4 separate regions of the Homo sapiens genome follow, and all the other regions are reported to be linked to region 3. The links are microRNA targets in miRTarBase. Many come from high-throughput screens and were not tested one by one. Region 3 holds a microRNA gene; each other region holds the end of a gene's coding sequence.

Region 1 (4,217 bases), not on the chromosome of region 3:
CAGTTGTAAAGACATGGTACCTGCTATTGTTAATTTTCTTTTTTTGTTTTGTTTTGTTTTGGAGATGGAGTCTCGCTCTGTTGCCCAGGCGGGAGTGCAGTGGTGTGATCTCCATTCACTGCAGCCTTGCCTTCCGGGTTCAAGCAATTCTCCTGCCTCAGCCTCCCAAGTAGCTGGGACTACAGGCCTGCGCCACCACGCCCAGCTAATTTTTATGTTTTTAGTAGAGACAGGGTTTCACCATGTTGGTCAGGCTGGTCTCGAACTCCTGACCTCTAGTGAGCCGCTGCACCTGGCCCTGATAATTTTCTTTGTCAACCAACCTGATCTATATCTCCATCACTGAATTGCCCTGGACTTACAAGATGAAGAAGGAATTGCAGCTGTGTTGTTTCTTGCTTCTTTCCCAGTTCCCTGAGATGAATGAGGTCTGTCAAGAGGATGAAAGGAAGGGCAGCATCTTGATTCCATTTATCATCCAGAACCTGGGCCTCCTGACTGGATTCACCATCATGGTGGTCCTCACCATGTATTCAGGACAGATCCAGATTGGGTAGGGCTCTGCCAAGAGCCTGTGGGACTGGAAGTCGGGCCCTGGGCTGCCCGATCGCCAGCCCGAGGACTTACCATCCACAATGCACCACGGAAGAGGCCGTTCTATGAAAAACTGACACAGACTGTATTCCTGCATTCAAATGTCAGCCGTTTGTAAAATGCTGTATCCTAGGAATAAGCTGCCCTGGTAACCAGTCTCTAGCTAGTGCCTCTTGCCCTCTCCTCACCTCCTTTTCTCTCAGTGACTCTGGAACCTGAATGCAGCTTACAAGACAAGCCTGACTTTTTTCTCTGATTACCTTGGCCTCCTCTTGGAACCAGTGCTGAAAGGTTTTGAATCCTTTACCCAACAATGCAAAAATAGAGCCAATGGTTATAACTTGGCTAGAAATATCAAGAGTTGAATCCATAGTGTGGGGCCCATGACTCTAGCTGGGCACCTTGGACCTCCAGCTGGCCAATAGAAGAGACAGGAGACAGGAAGCCTTCCCATTTTTTCAAAGTCTGTTTAATTGCCTATTACTTCTCTCAAAGAGAACCTGAAGTCAGAACACATGAGCAGGGTGAGAGGTGAGGCAAGGTTCATCCTGAATGGGAGAGGAAGTCGAACCACTGCTGTGTGTCTTGTCAGGATGCTCACTTGTTCCTACTGAGATGCTGGATATTGATTTTGTAACAGCACCTGGTGTTTCACGGCTGTCCGAGTGAGCTAACGTGGCGGTGTGGCTGCCTGGACCTCCTCTTTCAGGTTAACGCTGACAGAATGGAGGCTCAGGCTGTCTGCAAGAAAACAGTTGGTTTGGCTGTGATTTTGACCTCCTCTTCCCCACTGCCATCTTCTAAGAGACTTTGTAGCTGCCTCCTAGAAGCACATTCTGAGCACATTTGAGACCTCTGTGTTAGAGGGGAGACTGCACAAACTATCCTCCCCCAGGTTGAGACGTCTGCAGAGTGGCAAGCTGACTTGTAGAAATGGGGTGCCATTTATGCTCTACTTAGACAAGGGTAATCAGAAATGGAATCAGTGCAGGCAAAATTTAGGATTTGCCGCTTCCATAAATCAAAGCATGACTAATAGGGGGTCTCTGAAATGTAAGGGCACAAACTTCACTTAGGGCATCGCAGATGTTTGCAGAATGGTTGGCCTAATGATTATGCTACAGATGGGTTTTAAATGACCCGTCTAGGTTACTGCTTCCTTGCAAAAAAAGTCGAATCCTGCATTGAATTGAATATGAATTTCTCTAACTCTCTCCAGAAAATGGATGGAGATAACTTGTCTTTAAAACTGTAGGCCAGCCTTAGCCACTGTGGAGCCCTTGCCTCCGAGCTCTGGCTTCAAGGGGAGCTCTTCTCCAGGTTCACTAGGTGAATTGATTTATTATTATCATATTGATAATGTGAGATTCTTTAGCCACTTTGGGGAGCCTGTCTCTCCAGAAGCCTTTCTTAGTGGTGCCCACAGTTGGAGCCCAGGGGCCATGTTTGCAAACTGATTCATGTGCATGGCTGACAGGAGTACTGGTTCACTACCAATGCCTGAGCTTTTCTCTTACATAGAAAAACTGTCCGCTCTCAGTAATCACAAGCAGCATCCGTTTTGTTTTCTCTTCTTGGGAGACATCTGTCAAACCAGGAATATTCTTGAAAAGAACGTGAGCAGGAAAAACTGCTGGTGATACTTTTTTTAAGTTTTGTTTTTATCTTGCCTGTTGGCTTCAATACATTTGAGAATACGCTGAAGAGGGAAAATTTCAGTGATGGAGATTCTAGATTAAATATCAGGACTGATTTCCTGGTGGGATTATGGTCCAGTTTTACCAAAGAACCAATTCCTTGAATGTTGGAATCTAACTTTTTATATTGTCATTATTATTGTTGTTTTTAAACGGTTCTTTGTCTTTTCTGTTTTATTTTTCTCAAGCTGCTTTCAGGAGCTAGCAGAAAATAACTCAAAGTTGAAGACTCTGGAAGATTTTGCTTTAACCTAACTCGCATTGATGTATTAAATTTATAATTTTAGCATTCCCAATAGATCCTATCATTCCTTAAACATAATACCCTTTGTCTTGGAGTAGAATACTAAGTTAGAGTTAGTGGATTTCTAGTTTAGGAGAGGAGCTCAAAACTATAATCTTTAACAAATTGAAAAATGAAATAGGGTGTTTTCCCTTTTTGTGCACACCTATATTACCTTAAGAAATTTCCTTCCATAGACAGCTGCCTCAAAGGGAAATCCTCTTTAAACCGTAGTTGGCGCAGAGGTCAGTCCTAGTCGGAGCTTAGGAGGGGCGGAGACGCTCACATCGTCTGACTTGAGTCGCCACTGATTGTGGCAACAGCTTTGCCTCATGAGTCAAAAATTGGCAATTTCTTTTGATTTTTAGTTGTTGAATTTGCTGTTTCAAGCATTTGTACATATTAGAAGTCTAAGGAGTAGCAAGTCAGTGGGAGGACTTTTTCACCCCTGGCATTAGCAGCTTCGACCTCATTTTCCAGATGCACCAGCTCCTATTAATAAGTTAGCAAGGAAAGTGTATGTCACGTGCAGGAACAGTGAGGCAGGGACAGGGGTTCTGCTCCTTCTCACTTCACCACCGGCACACAGCTTGCCCCTGTCTTTGCCCCCAAAGGTATTTTGTGTCTAGTGTCAAATTGGAGCTATTCTTCACTGGTCCTTAACCTTGGGTTTTAAAAAGAAGGCTTCTCTGTTTGGGTAGCGTAAGAGCTGAGTATAGTAAGTCCTCTTCCAAAGAGATGGCAATATGCTGGGCATCTACTTTAAAACAAAGTTGTCTGATTTTTGCAAGAGAGGTTAGGATTTTATTGTTCTTATTTCCCTTTACAGTTCTGCAGTTCCATCACAGTATTTTTTTAAATAACTCAGGTGTATGAGAAGAAATTAGAAAAGAAAATTAACTTATGTGGACTGTAAATGTTTTATTTGTAAGATTCTATAAATAAAGCTATATTCTGTAATTGTTGAGAATCCCACGGGTGATCATTTGCAATAAATGTGGATGTAATGAAGGCTGTTGAACACAAGGTGGCGATGGTGTCTCACTGACGTACAAAGTTTTGTTTTACCAGGTCTGGTTTAACATTTGACTGGGATTTTAGAAGGTTTTTTTTGTTGTTGTTATTGAGACAGAGTTTTGCTCTTGTCGCCCAGGCTGGAGTGCAGTGGTGCGATCTCGGCTCACTGCAACCTCCACCTCCTGGGTTCAAGCGATTCTCCTGCCTCAGCCTCCCGAGTAGCTGGGATTACAGGTGCCCGCCACCACGCCTGGCTAAATTTTGTATTTTTAGTAGAGATGGGGTTTCGCCATGTTGTCCAGGCTGGTCTCGAACTCCTGACCTCAGGTGATCTGCCCGCCTTGGCCTCCCAAAGTCTTGGGATTACAGGCTTGAGTCATTGTGCCAGGCCAAGAAGGAAACTTTTGTACTCTCTTCTCTTTTCTTTCTTTGAGACAGTCTCACTCTGTCACCCAGGCTGGAATGCATTGGCACGATCTCGGTTCACTGCAGCCTCCGCTTCCTGGGTTCAAGCGATTCTCATGCCTCAGCTTCCTAAGTAGCTTGGACTACAGGCATGTAGTACCATGCCCAGCTAATTTTTGAATTTTGTTGTTGTTGTTGTTTTGTTTTTTTTTTTTTGAGAC
Region 2 (4,217 bases), not on the chromosome of region 3:
AGCAAAATTTAAAAGGTACGATTTTGTAAGAGTTATGTTCTTTGAATATGCTCAGGGTTAGAAATCCAAGAGTGCAGCCTTATTTAAGAGTATCTGGCTAAAAGGTAAAGTAGATAAGAAGTAATCAGAAGTCTCCCTGGTTGAATTCCTCAGTGCATGATTAATCTGATGGCAACCAATGTCAAGGAGCACCCTAAAATATGCATTGGGTAAATTCAGAAGCAGACACGTTAAAATTTGGTAAAACAATAGCAGAATTTAAGGGGTTGGCAACTCAAGTCCTCTGTAGGTGCTAGGAAAAGCAAGAAGGTACAGATTCTAGAACTCTTTATTTAGACTAGGTATGGTGCGAGTGAAAACCATCACTCCATCAAGGCAATTTTTATTTTAAAAAATTACAGAAAGAACAAAGAACTAAAAGAATTTTAATAAAATGAGCAAGTTTACATTTGTACATTTTGTGTATCTGGGACCCAATCGGGACAAAGGATAAAGTTGCAAGGACAAAGGTTTCTGTGGGAGAGCAAGCAAAAAGCAAGGGCTGCCCCAGTTGCATCATGGGCATCCATTCAGAGCTGGGACCCCGCAGCCACCTGCCTGTGCTCCGGAAGTGAGAAGCACATGTAAGCACGCGTCAGTGAGAGCGTCGCAGTTGAACTCAGCCCAGTGCAACGCAGCCTGAGTGACATCCCTACATTAATACTTGATAGGGAACAGCAGATAAACAGTTCCAAAAACCAAATGGTATTGCCCATAGAATATGAATGTAAACTGAGTTCAGTTCATGCTGTTTTAACCAGAATGGTTCCACTGAACCTAATGAGGGGAAAAAGGTCTGATGGATCTAATTGCTCTATTCGATGGCACAGTTACAAATCAGCAGGCCTGTGAGAAAGAACCATACATTTCTCTCAGAAATATGATTTGAGAAAAGGGCCTTGTAGGAGTGAGAGAAAGGTTAGAGAAAAGTACAGTTTTAACATATGAGACAATTCTTCATACTGTAATAGAATGCTGCTTGTGGTGAAGGATTTGGTAGAGATGGAAAACTGCTCAACTTTAATTCCCATTATTCTAAAGGATGACAAACATTTTAGAGTATTGATCAATGTTCAGTGAAAAAATAAAAATGACTAGTGTTGGCTGGGCGCAGTGGCTCACGCCTGTAATCCCAGCACTTTGGGAGGCCGAGGCAGGCAGATCACGAGGTCAGGAGACCGAGACCATCCTGGCCAACATGGTGAAACCCCGTCTCTACTAAAAATACAAAAATTAGCTGGGCGTGGTGGCATGCACCTGTAGTCCCAGCTACTCGGGAGGCTGAGGCAGCAGAATCGCTTGAACCCAGGAGGTGGAGGTTGCAGTGAGCCGAGATTGCGCCACTGCACTCCAGCCTGGGTGACAGAGTGAGACTCTGTCTGTGTGTTAGGAATGAGAAATTACTAAGTTTTTTCAAGATTTTACCCATTTTGTGTACAGAGAAATAAGCTTTTAATGGCGCAATGTTGCATATACGGGTAACTTGTTCTTTGAGAAATATAAACTCAAACTCACAAGTTGTCATGATAACATATGCAGTAATATGACCATTCTACAACAGAGTCACCCACAGGTAAAACACATGACTGGGCTTTGAGCTCACACCAATTTACACAGCATACAGTTGTGCTACAAGGAGAATTTCTTCATCATTTATTCTTTAGTTAATTGAAACATAGTCAGGAAAAAATGGTGCCAATTCCCCCCAAACAACACATGGATGTTTTTGCTTCTTGACCCACTTAGAGTCCCAAAAGGACAAAAAATACATGGACCAATATTAGTTCACGAAACATGTTTTAAAGAACAGAGAATGAGGTCTTCATCCCACCTCAGTAAGGCTTGGGCTGATGAAGAGAGGGTGTATTCAGGGTCCTCTCTTGTCATATGTACAAGCTGACGCTTGTTTCCCAAGCATGATAGTAGTGGGTAGACTGCCTTTATTGTTAGCCCCTAATAGAATCAGTCAGCACAATGAAGAAATTCCAAAGAGGGCAGTGAAGTGACAACAGCTTCAGCTCGTCATCGATGTTATACAGAAACACAAAAGGAATCCCCGGCCTGTGATGAAGGAGAGGCCGTTGCTGTGTGTTCAGGACACCTCAGAGCAGGCACATAAAGTGCTGGAGGGTGACACAGCCTGTCTGGATGTCCTCGGGAGGGTGTGCCATCCAGGAGGCGACACCCCCATCCAGCACACGGGCCCTTCCACCCGCTGTCGGTCCTGCTAAAGGTACGAGGCTAAAACCGGCCTCTCCAGAAAAGAACGCTCAGTGTGTGCTGACCACACTTCCCTTTGAATTTCCCGAGTATTCAACAGGAGATACATTTTAACAAGAAAAAATACCCCTAACAAACAGGACAGATGACTCTCTCAACAAGAGAGCAACTACGAACATGATACAAATTTAAATAAAAATGTTTAGTTCAACGTGTTCGTCATGGAGTTTCAAATCAGCAGATGCCATGACAGGAAAGGAGCACACAGCTGGGCCCTTGCCCGCCGTGGGTTTCCCGTGTCCGCGGCTTCTTCAAGGAGGGGAGAGCAGCTTCTCTCTTGGAGCGTTCTCAGTTTCTCAACAGATCTTCACTTGCTAGGCAGCCAGAAGCATTAGTTCACCCAAGAGTGAGTGCTTGGGTACACAAGGCAGAATCTTTTGGGAGCTGAGAGCCGGAGAGGAAGAAAGAAGGAACAAAGGTACTTCTCCAGGGTCAGCCGTTTCTGAGGGCAAAGGCAGAGCCCACGAGGTAACCCTGGGAAATGGGCCCATGAGTGAGCGGCGTGGATGGAGAACGTGTTTCTGCAGGAGGGCAAGGCTGACCCCCATGAGGCTCTGTGCCCTCGCCACTCACCCAGGCAAGAGAGGACTTTGTCGCCAGCCATGGTGAAGCCACGTTTCCAGTGCAAACATGAGTCTAAAGGTTGGAGTGTGGGGGTGGTGGGGGATCCCCCACCTGGGTCTGGACTGCATGAGGAAGACTCCCTTTTTTTTTTTTTCAAAGTAGACCTCTGTCTTGGATTACTATGTACCTGGACAGGTGAACTCTTGTATGTTTCTGTTTTGGGGATTTTTAGGGGTTTTCCATGTACATTCATAGAGCCTGGTCATTCCATGTACATTCATAGAGCCTGGTCAGCAGCGAGGAGTCCTTGTTGCGTATGGACGGAAGGCTCCCTGGCACCCAGATGTCTCCCTTCGTCCTGGCTGACACAGAGCATGGTGGTCATCTGCTCTTCATGTCCAGCAGGCTCAGAAAGAACTCGGAGTTCCCCTCGCACCCTTGGGCCAAGCTTTTCAAGTCCGAGTGCCAGGACTGGATGAGCTGGGGTTTGTGTGTCTGCTGGCGGCACAGTGGGTGTGCACAAGACCACCATTTGGGTATCTAACAAACACAGGCTCACAAAAGGGATTTTGGCATATCTGACAAAGCTTTTTGTCTGAGAGTTGGATTGAGCTTCCTTTCAACTTCATCTGCAAGAAGAAACCAAGACTGAGAATGCTGTCATGTGTTAAGTATATTTAAAGTGGCTACGTTCTAGTTTTGCAGAGTTGACATGCATTACTCCATGGGTTATTATTATGATGAGGATTTCTTTAATATCAACTTCTTGAAATGAAATGCTAAAGGTGTAAATAAAACCATCCTTAGTAACTGGACAAGGAAGAAAGTTACACAATTGCTTTTCTTATTTCACAAAAGTAATTGTTGCTTGTCTGGCTGAGGCATTTCTACTTAAGATCCTCTCTCCAACATTCTCTGGCTCTGATCATTTCAAGCAAGGCCTGTTAGAAAGTCATGAATGTTAATGCTGAATGAGACCATATAATAGTGTAACTCCAGGGTTCTCTCATTTGCAAATAAGAAAAGTAAAGCACAAACAAATAAGGGATGTAGTCAAAGTTACACAGCTAACAAGTGGCATATTCCTGGTTGGTCCTGGGAGACACCCTTCCGTTTCCTTAGAGGTAACTGGTGAAACTGAGTCTTAATGCCATCGGTCCCTGTCTGATCAACAGGACTTGAGTTCTGAAAGTTATAAAGTTTTTCTACACAATTCACTCGTGTCAACCGAGGCAGGTTGGTCTATTGGCAGGATCAAGCAGCAACTTAGCGATTCATCCTGCACTCCTTAGTTGCATCAGTCATTCCACAAACACGGATTAGATGCCTTCGAC
Region 3 (4,000 bases):
TGTCTAAACTCCTTAGTTTGGCCTTCTAGGCCTTGCATGATCCACCCTGACCTGCTTCCCTAAAGCACAGACTCCCCATCTGTCTTCCCTGTGGTCCCTGGACTTGGCCTCGTGTCATGTTTCTCTGTCTCTGCTCAGAATGGACTCCTCTTGTCTTCGTCTTCTTGTCCACTTAGTAAATGCTTCTAAACACTCATCTTAGTAAACATTCATCCTGCTCTTTACCCTCATAACATCTGGAACAATCACTTACAGTGAAACAATGACTGTGTTTCACTACATTTTATCACTGTTTATCTATTTGCCTTCCCCATTAGATCATAAGCTACTTAAGGGCAAGAATTCCAGGCAAGTGCACGGTTCACGCCTGCAATCCCAGCACTTTGGCAGGCCAAGGCGGGCTGATCACTTGAGCCCAGGAATTTTAGACCACCCTGGGCAATATGGAGAAACCTCATCTCTACAAAAAATAGAAAAATTAGCCGGACATGGTGGCGCATGTCTGTAGTCCCAGCTACTCAGGAGACTAAGGTGAAAAGATCATCTGAGCCTGGGAAGTTGTGGCTGCAGTGAGTTGTGATCATGCCTCTGTACTCTAGCCTGGGCAACAGAGTGAGACTCTGTCTCAAAAAAAAAAGAGAATTTCATCCATTTCTGTATTTGTATCCATTTCTGTATCCCCAGTGCTTCATACAGTAGGATTTAATATATGCAGGGTGATGAGGGAGGTTAAGTGACTTGCTCAATGCCACACTGAAAATTTAGCACAAAGCCAGGTCTGGAGCAGAGGTGGCTTGACCCTCATTCAAGGCTTTTCAAATGGTGCCACAGACTCTCCTCAGCAGGGCCCCACACTGTCTTCCCATTACAGTGATGACACTGTAGGAAACTATGTGCCCTATCTGGCTTGATCACCTTGTAACCTATGGTGGGAACCTGTGGGTGCTAGACGGCTGGGGCTGAAGTCTGGCCTATGGAATAGAATTCTCACCAGGGTGTCAATTAAGACCTTGTCAATTAGCACAGTGCCTCAACCCCTACACTCTTCATACAAGCCACCATGCTGGTTTGAGATTCCTCTTGAAATCACAGAAACCTATTTCTCCAACACCCATTTCACAACAGTCATTCTAATCATCTTACCTAGGGTTAAGTAAACCAGTCCAAGGGCCTAATTGGGCCTTTCACCTGTTTTGCAAATAAAGTTTTTCTGGAAAACATCCATGCTCATTTGTTTATATATTCTCTGTGGCTGCAGATTTGAGTGGAGACCCTATGTCCAGCAAAGCGTAAAATACTATCTGGCCTTTATAGAAAAAGTTTTGCAGACCTTTGGATCTAGCCCAAAAAACAGGGAATCAAGACTGCAAACAGCCCCTCCCTTCTACCAAGGGACTGGCTGCCCCTACTCTGGAAGTTAGTGAACCAACTGGCTTTTGAATGAAGTCATTTCTTTTTTTAGCCCTGGTTACAGGCCTGGGATCCAGGAGGAGATTTTGCCTGTCAGAGGCACACAGGGACCTGCAACACCTAGCACATGGCCTGGCACATAATGGCACTCAATTAATGTTTACTGAATAAATAAACAAAGACATGAGAAATCAGCCAGGCTGAGCCTCGAACAAAAGTCCATACTCCTCCTGTCAGTTTCAAGGTGGCCAGTCACACAGGTACCTGGCAGCAGCCGGGTGACCTAGATTTGTCAGACCTTATCTTATTGGCTTTCCTTTCTCGTGTATTTACCCAGCACCTGCCCCCACGATGCTCAGAGCAGGTTGGCCTCTTGTTTTTATAGAGAAAGAGATGGACAGGGAGGAACTCTCCTCCCACACAGACACACTTTGTGTTTTTTCTTTTTTTCTCCCGCTGCGGGAAGAATCAAGAAATATGGGGGCTTCGAGCTTCAAAAAGCTCCATGAAGTCTAGTTTCACTGGCTTCCTCTCTCCTCAGGCTTCCTAGGTGAATGTTTCTGGCATGAACCTTAACGGCCCTCTCAGAGTTGTACCTGTCGTTTGGAACATTTGGCATCTGAAGGGGAAAGGCCAGCTGTGGATAAAGCTGGCAGCTTTCAGAAGGTCAGGAATGTAAACAAAGCAGCCCCCACCCAGTGGGGAGAGGCCTGGTCCTGAGAATACAGACATTCCTCCAAAGATGCATCAGAGAACAAGGGGCTGCCCGACTCGGCTGGGCTAGCTCAGGCCGACTCTGCAGGGGAGGACAGGGACCATCAGGGAAACAAAAGGCACTTCAGCCTCTCATGAAAATTAGGCAAACTGAATGGAAAGCACTATGGAAATGCTGGTTTTTCAGCTGCCCCGGATAACCTTAGGGGCCAGGCTCAGGAAGGAGATCCTTGTTGCTGCTGCCACCAACCGCTTTTTCAGGTGCTGGGTCTTCCAGGAACCAAAGGGTACCGTGTGACAGGCTCAGTGAAGGCAAAGCTTGCATCTGTTTGCCACTGTAATTCCCAGGGTCTAACACGTAAGAGGAGCTCACACAATGTGGAATAAATGACAGGGCCCTCTGCAGGAGGGTTTGCTCAGGGATTTTTTGTTTTGGTGAGGAAACACTTTTCTGTTTCCTCATTTATCTGCTGGGACGCTAAGGTCACAGTTAGCTTCCCAACAGATAAATGAGGAAACAGAAAATTGCTCTTGGTGGAGCCAACCCTAACAAGAAGGAAAAGGAGCTCCTGGGCCCCCAAAGATAGAGAATTTTCCTTTTGATGATCATAATTTACCCCTTCAAAGACCCAAAGGTGTCAGGGGCTAAAGGGGAGGGGAGAACTAGTGCCACCTGCTCCACCTCTTGACATCACTGTAGTCTGGAGGGGAGGGAGTTTATGGACTGATTAGATGTTGTTGTTTCTAGCGGCAGCTGGCAGAGCCATCTCCTCCTCTCTTCCTCTCCCCCTCCTCCTCCAACTCACTGTCCAGCCACCAGCAATAAGCCAGGGAGAGGAGGGAAACAGCTAAAGCTCCCCTTGGCTGGGCAGCCCTTACCCCAGAGATAATACTCTGGGTCACCAGGTCAAACCCTCCTCTCAGCAGCTTTGCTGAGTGCTTTGGAAACAAAGGTTATCAGAGATTCTCTTTTGGTTTTGTTCTTTCAAGATAAAGAAAGTGGTTTCTTTCAAAAGATTCCCCCCCACCCGAAGTGTCACAGAAGGAATCAAACTGACAAGCAACTCTCAGCTCCAGCTTCACTCTCCAGGCCAGGGACTTCTCTTCCAGCCGCCTGGGCTGCTGTGTCACAGCCAACTGAGGTCCTCGGGTGGGTCAGAGGCACAGTAACCACCTGACAGACTAAAAGGGAAGGAGGCAGGGACAGGCTTTTCCATTTACATTCTAGAGAGGCTTCGCTGCTGCCTGCAGGTAAGGCCCCAGAAAGCTGTGGTGGAAGGTGCTGCTGCTATTTCATCACCTCCTGAGACCTGCTGGTCCCCCTGGGATAAGGAACAAGCGATTCCATGAGGAGAGGCCTCAAAAGACGACAGATGACAACTGTAGGGCTCAAGGGCAACTGCTGAGACTCTCCAAAAACAAGGGCAACAAGCAAGAGTGCCAGGCTTGTTGGGGTGCCAGGCCCTAGTTCTGTCACTTTCCATTTGGTTTTCTTTAGTGACTATTCATAGAATAACACTAGCTTCCAACATTTATTGAGCACTTATCACGTGCCAGGCCCTGTGGTAAGAACTTCACATCAATAACCTCATTTAATTTCCACAAAAATCCTATCAGGTATCTAATATTACTATTATTCCCATTTGCCAGTGAGGCCATTAAGACGCAAAGGCGGATGGGCGCAGTGGCTCATACCCGTAATCCCAGCACTTTGGGAGGCCGAGGCCAGTGGATCACCTGAGGTCAGGAGTTCGAGATCAGCCTGGCCAACATGGCGAAACCCCATCTTCTACAAAAAATGAAATAAACAAATAAATAAATAAATAGCCGATGTGGTGGCAGGCACCTGTAATCCAGCTACTTGGGAGGCTGAATA
Region 4 (4,217 bases), not on the chromosome of region 3:
TATGGAAACCCCTGAACTAGATCAAAACAAGACCCCATGAAGCTAACACCTTGCTTCTTTAAGAATATTGCTTTACTCAATTTCTTTTCGAATTTCATAGAAAATAGTTTTGTAAATTTTGTTCTGTTAAAGAAGTTGAAAAGAATTAAAGAAGGCAGGAAGTCAGAGTTTGACTTCCCCTGGGCCAGTTAAGAGCCAAATAACCTCGGGCCAGTTCCTTCCTCTCTGTCTCCCCACGTGTAAGATACAGGGGCTGGCACAGGGGTCCCCAGGCCTTTCCAGCTCTGAGGTAGAATGCCAGAGACTGCAGCAATGGGCCTTTTCTCTCTTAATGCCTCCGCCTCTCTGTCCCCTCACAGCTACGTACAAGCCAGAGCTTCCAGGAAAGCAGTCCTTCCTCTACAACGAGGACAAGAAATGGATCCCGGTTCTGTAGGGATGTCACACAAGGTCAAGGAGAACTCCAGCCACCAGCCCACCCTGCCCAGCGTCCCCAGGACATTCCTCAGGAGGAGACCGATCATGAGTGTGGCAGCTGACAACTTGGGGGGTGGCTCTACCACTCTGGCCTGGCATCCTAGCCGGACTGCTGCCATTGCCTTTGTCTTGAGCTGGAGACATTGCTCCCTGGAGACTTCACCCCAGCCCCACAGACTCCAGTGGCTTCCTGAGCAGAAGGGAGGAGTGGACAGAGCCCCCTGGCTGCTTCCCCACGCACCCATCCAGGCTGCCTTCCGGCACGACTCCCTGCCGCAGACTGAAGGGACTCCTGAAGCGCAGACTTCAAGGAGGATCAGTCCACCCTGAAGGTGGCCAAGCCTGGAAGCCCCACCCTTCCCTGTTTCATTCCTTCATTCATTTACACATTCATTCATTCCCTCACTCCTGCCTTTCTCATTTGTCCCTTTCTGACCTCACTCACTTACGGTATGTCTACTGGGCGAAAGCTACCTGCAGGCAGGTGATGCTTTTTCCACCAGTCCACAGCTTCCTTTCTAAAGTGACCACCTGTTTGGAAAGACCTCTCTTTACTCCTTTTAGACCTTTTTCTCTTTGGAGTGGGAGATCATCTTGGAATGGCAGTGGCCGGGCCCGGGGGCTGCGCTTTTCCCTGACTTTCTCTGCTGGCGGGACTGAATTTTCTCAAGGCTTACAGGCCCTTCCATGGAGTCCACATGGCCTGTCTAGGCCTGATAGCTTTCGTCTCTCTATGTGGAGGGAAAAAGAAATGTGCCCTAGTGGTTTTGGTGGAGGCTGCACAGATTCGCGGTGGGTGGGGAGCTGCCAGGCTCCTTTTCTGATCTCCCAGCAGGCTTTGACTGACGCTGTTTAGTCTTTCTGTACATTAACCCCGCCAGATACCGAGAGGTTACAAAGCCTCCAAGGCCTGTACAACTGTGGCCTCTCCAGAGAAGTGGTTCTCAGCCTTGACTGCACACTGTAATCACCTGGGGACTTTAAAAAGTACTGAGGCCTGGGGCCCACCCACAAATGCTGATTTAACTCCTCCAGGGTGGGGTCTGGGCAGTGGGGAGGCAGGAGCCACCCAGGTGATTCCAATGATAGGTGTAGGTTGAGAAGCGCCACCTTCCAGCTTCCTAACTGGCTCTGGGAGGGGAGCTGGGTGGGAAGTTCAGGAGGTGGGAACTTTGTACACGCAGAGCACCTGGAGCACCTACAGCATGGCTGTGGTTCCACACTCCTCTGTCATTTAACCTTCACACATCACCTCGTTCTGACATCAAGGGTGCGTCACAGCCACAGTGAGGCCTCGCCTGGGCAGAGCAACTCTGGGTGCCCCACTGGGTCCCTCCCACAGGGGCAGGCAAGCCTAATGGGAACCCGAGGCAAAAGGAAACATCAGTAATACGAATCCTGTCTTTAAAACTGTGATGTTTTGTTCACCATGGATTTTTTTTTTGGGGGGGGGGGCCTTAATTTTAAAAATATTGCATTAAACTTATTTATCTTGCTTATTGAGCTTTTGGGTACCCCTTAATTTTTGTGCCTTAGGCTAGAGACTCACCTGCCCATAGCCTTGACTCTAGGTAGGGGCTTGGGAATTAGGACCACAGACTGTCAGCGCTGGGAGGTTCTTAGAGGGATCATGGTTTTCACACCTTTTTAAAAAAAGTTTTACTCAGACAGATGTTTACGAGAAACCCAAATATTTAAGTGGAGAGAAGCAGAGCTGCAGTGATGGAGTTAGGGAGGGTACGCAGGGACTGCTGCAGCCCCTTCCTCGCATTGTAGTGGCCTTGGAGACCCACCAGTGAGCCCTGAGGCTCTGAAGATGATAATTACAAACAACCAACAGAGATCATGACCTGCATTTTATAGCCAAAGAAACTGAGGGCTACAGGTAGCAGTGGCTGGTAAGTCTGCTCTCCCAAAGGAAGAAAGACCCACTTCAACTTGGCAGCTTAAAAAAGATAAATGTGGCCGGACACGGTGGCTCACGCCTGTAATCCCAGCACTTTGGGAGGCCGAGGTGGGTGGATCATGATGTCAGGAGATCGAGACCATCCTGGCTAACACGGTGAAACCCCATCTTTACTAAAAATACAAAAAATTAGCCGGGCATGGTGGTGGGCACGTGTAATCCCAGCTACTCAGGAGGCTGAGGCAGAATGGCGTGAACCCGGGAGGCGGAGCTTGCAGCGAGTCGAGATCGTGCCACTCCACTCCAGCCTGGGCGACAGAGCCAGACTCCGTCTCAAAAAAACAAAAAAAAAGATAAATGAGGCAATGGAGGAACTGATCTAAAAGAGACAAAAACTGGCCAGGTGCAGTGGCTCACGCCTGTAATCCCAGCACTTTGGGAGGCTGAGGCGAGTGGATCACAAGGTCAGGAGTTCGAGACCAGCCTGGCCAATATGGTGAAACCCCGTCTCTACTAAAAATACAAAAATTAGCCAAGCGTGGTGTCAGGCACCTGTAGTCCCAGCTACTCAGGAGGCTGAGGCAGGAGAATCGCTTGAACCCGGGAGGCGGAGGTTGCAGTGAGCCAAGATCATGCCACTGCACTCCAGCCTGGGTGACAAAGCGAGGCTCCATCGCAAGAAAAAAAAAAAAAAAAAGATAAATGAAAAGAAAGCAAGCCTGAATCTGTGATTTGTTCTCTAAGGAAAATAAAGGCCTTGATTTGTAGCATTTGTCAATTTCTGACTGTCACCATGGCTGATTTCAATGTGCCAACATGACCACACTCCTTCAGAGTTGGGAAGAGATACCTGCAATTGCTTCTGTGAGCTGTAGGAGCTGGCTGCAGGGAACGTGGCTTGGCCTAGAGAGTAGGCGCAGAGCTGGCACAAGACTCAGGTCATGTGGCTCCCAGCCTTGGGTGCTGCCTGATGGCCTCAGCTGTGAGGTCCTCTTCAAGCTCATTCTACACCCTTCCCAGGACTTTCTCTGCAGAGTCAATGATCCTGAGGCTGTAACATTCAAACACAAACATCTGGGCATCAGGAATCTGCTGCCTTCCAGAGGGGGCACCTCTGCTCCACCGGTGCCCTGCACGTCCCAGCATCCTTCAAGTCCAGGGCAACCCGTTCTCCGCACAGAGCCAGAGCGAAGGGAGAAAGAGGAGCGAGGCCCCGACCAATGTAGCCATCTCTTTCCAGCAGACTCTCCCAAAAGGAACGAGAGCAGCATGTGAAGTAATGTGACGTAATACATAGATAGATTTTTATTACTAAATACCACGTGAGTATACAAAATGCATCACTGAATAACAGCTAAAAAAAGTCCAAGAAATGTGAAATACACATTTTTTGAAATGATAAAAACATATCCATGAAAAATATAAAATGTTGCATATATATACAGTATATTTATATATATATATAACAAATGAAAATCGTAAATAAGAAATGTATACAACAGTGAGTGGCAAGGCAGTAGTTTTACACAGCGGTCACTTTGTTCCAGTCGATCGTTAGTGCTATTTACATCCTGCGCTGAGGAAGTCTGAGAAAGAGACTCCAATATAGTGTCTTTTAAAAGTCATTTGCACTGAAAATCAAGAGTTTTCAAGTTAACTGACCAAAGGTTGAGAAATCCTTTGTCTGAAGTTGAAGGAAGACAGAGAGTGGGGGCCGCACCAGCTGGCGTGGTGCTGCGGGAGGGAGCGTGTGCCGCCACCATCTTAACGGGCAGCCTGCAGGAGCACCACTGCAGACAAGGGTCTTGGGAGGAGGGAACAGTCTTCTGGGTAG

What was found. The annotated mature microRNA hsa-miR-4729 reads UCAUUUAUCUGUUGGGAAGCUA and lies in region 3 at 2,616-2,637, opposite strand. An mRNA with a match to its seed (bases 2 to 7 or 8) in the 3' UTR can be bound and repressed. Matches are read on the target gene's strand: a 7mer-m8 pairs with bases 2 to 8, a 7mer-A1 pairs with bases 2 to 7 and ends in A, and an 8mer does both.
Region 1: miRTarBase lists SLC39A14 as a target of hsa-miR-4729. Seed matches in the 3' UTR shown: 7mer-A1 at 1,727-1,733 and 7mer-m8 at 3,566-3,572.
Region 2: the mRNA of TGFBRAP1 is a reported target of hsa-miR-4729. Seed matches in the 3' UTR shown: 8mer at 1,689-1,696.
Region 4: miRTarBase lists STPG1 as a target of hsa-miR-4729. The part of its 3' UTR that is shown has no 7-base or 8-base seed match.

The regions. Positions count from the first base shown.
Region 1 is chr8:22,419,142-22,423,358 of GRCh38, forward strand. It overlaps SLC39A14 (solute carrier family 39 member 14), which reads left to right. Exons shown (of 9, transcript NM_001128431.4): 9 at 411-3,595. The coding sequence ends at 557. Among named protein-coding and RNA genes, the nearest start is that of PPP3CC, 20 kb to the right of the region's middle.
Region 2 is chr2:105,264,048-105,268,264 of GRCh38, forward strand. TGFBRAP1 (transforming growth factor beta receptor associated protein 1) reads right to left here. Exons shown (of 12, transcript NM_004257.6): 12 at 367-3,512. The coding sequence ends at 3,336. Among named protein-coding and RNA genes, the nearest start is that of GPR45, 24 kb to the left of the region's middle.
Region 3 is chr17:59,364,729-59,368,728 of GRCh38, reverse strand. It overlaps MIR4729 (microRNA 4729), which reads right to left and starts at 2,646; the gene lies at 2,575-2,646. The region is part of intron 2 of YPEL2 (yippee like 2); the gene reads right to left. RefSeq lists a silencer at 687-981 and enhancers at 1,538-2,307, 2,308-3,077.
Region 4 is chr1:24,354,762-24,358,978 of GRCh38, reverse strand. It overlaps STPG1 (sperm tail PG-rich repeat containing 1), which reads left to right. Exons shown (of 9, transcript NM_001199013.2): 9 at 360-1,980. The coding sequence ends at 436. It overlaps GRHL3 (grainyhead like transcription factor 3), which reads right to left. Exons shown (of 16, transcript NM_198173.3): 16 at 3,661-4,217. Among named protein-coding and RNA genes, the nearest start is that of GRHL3-AS1, 35 kb to the right of the region's middle.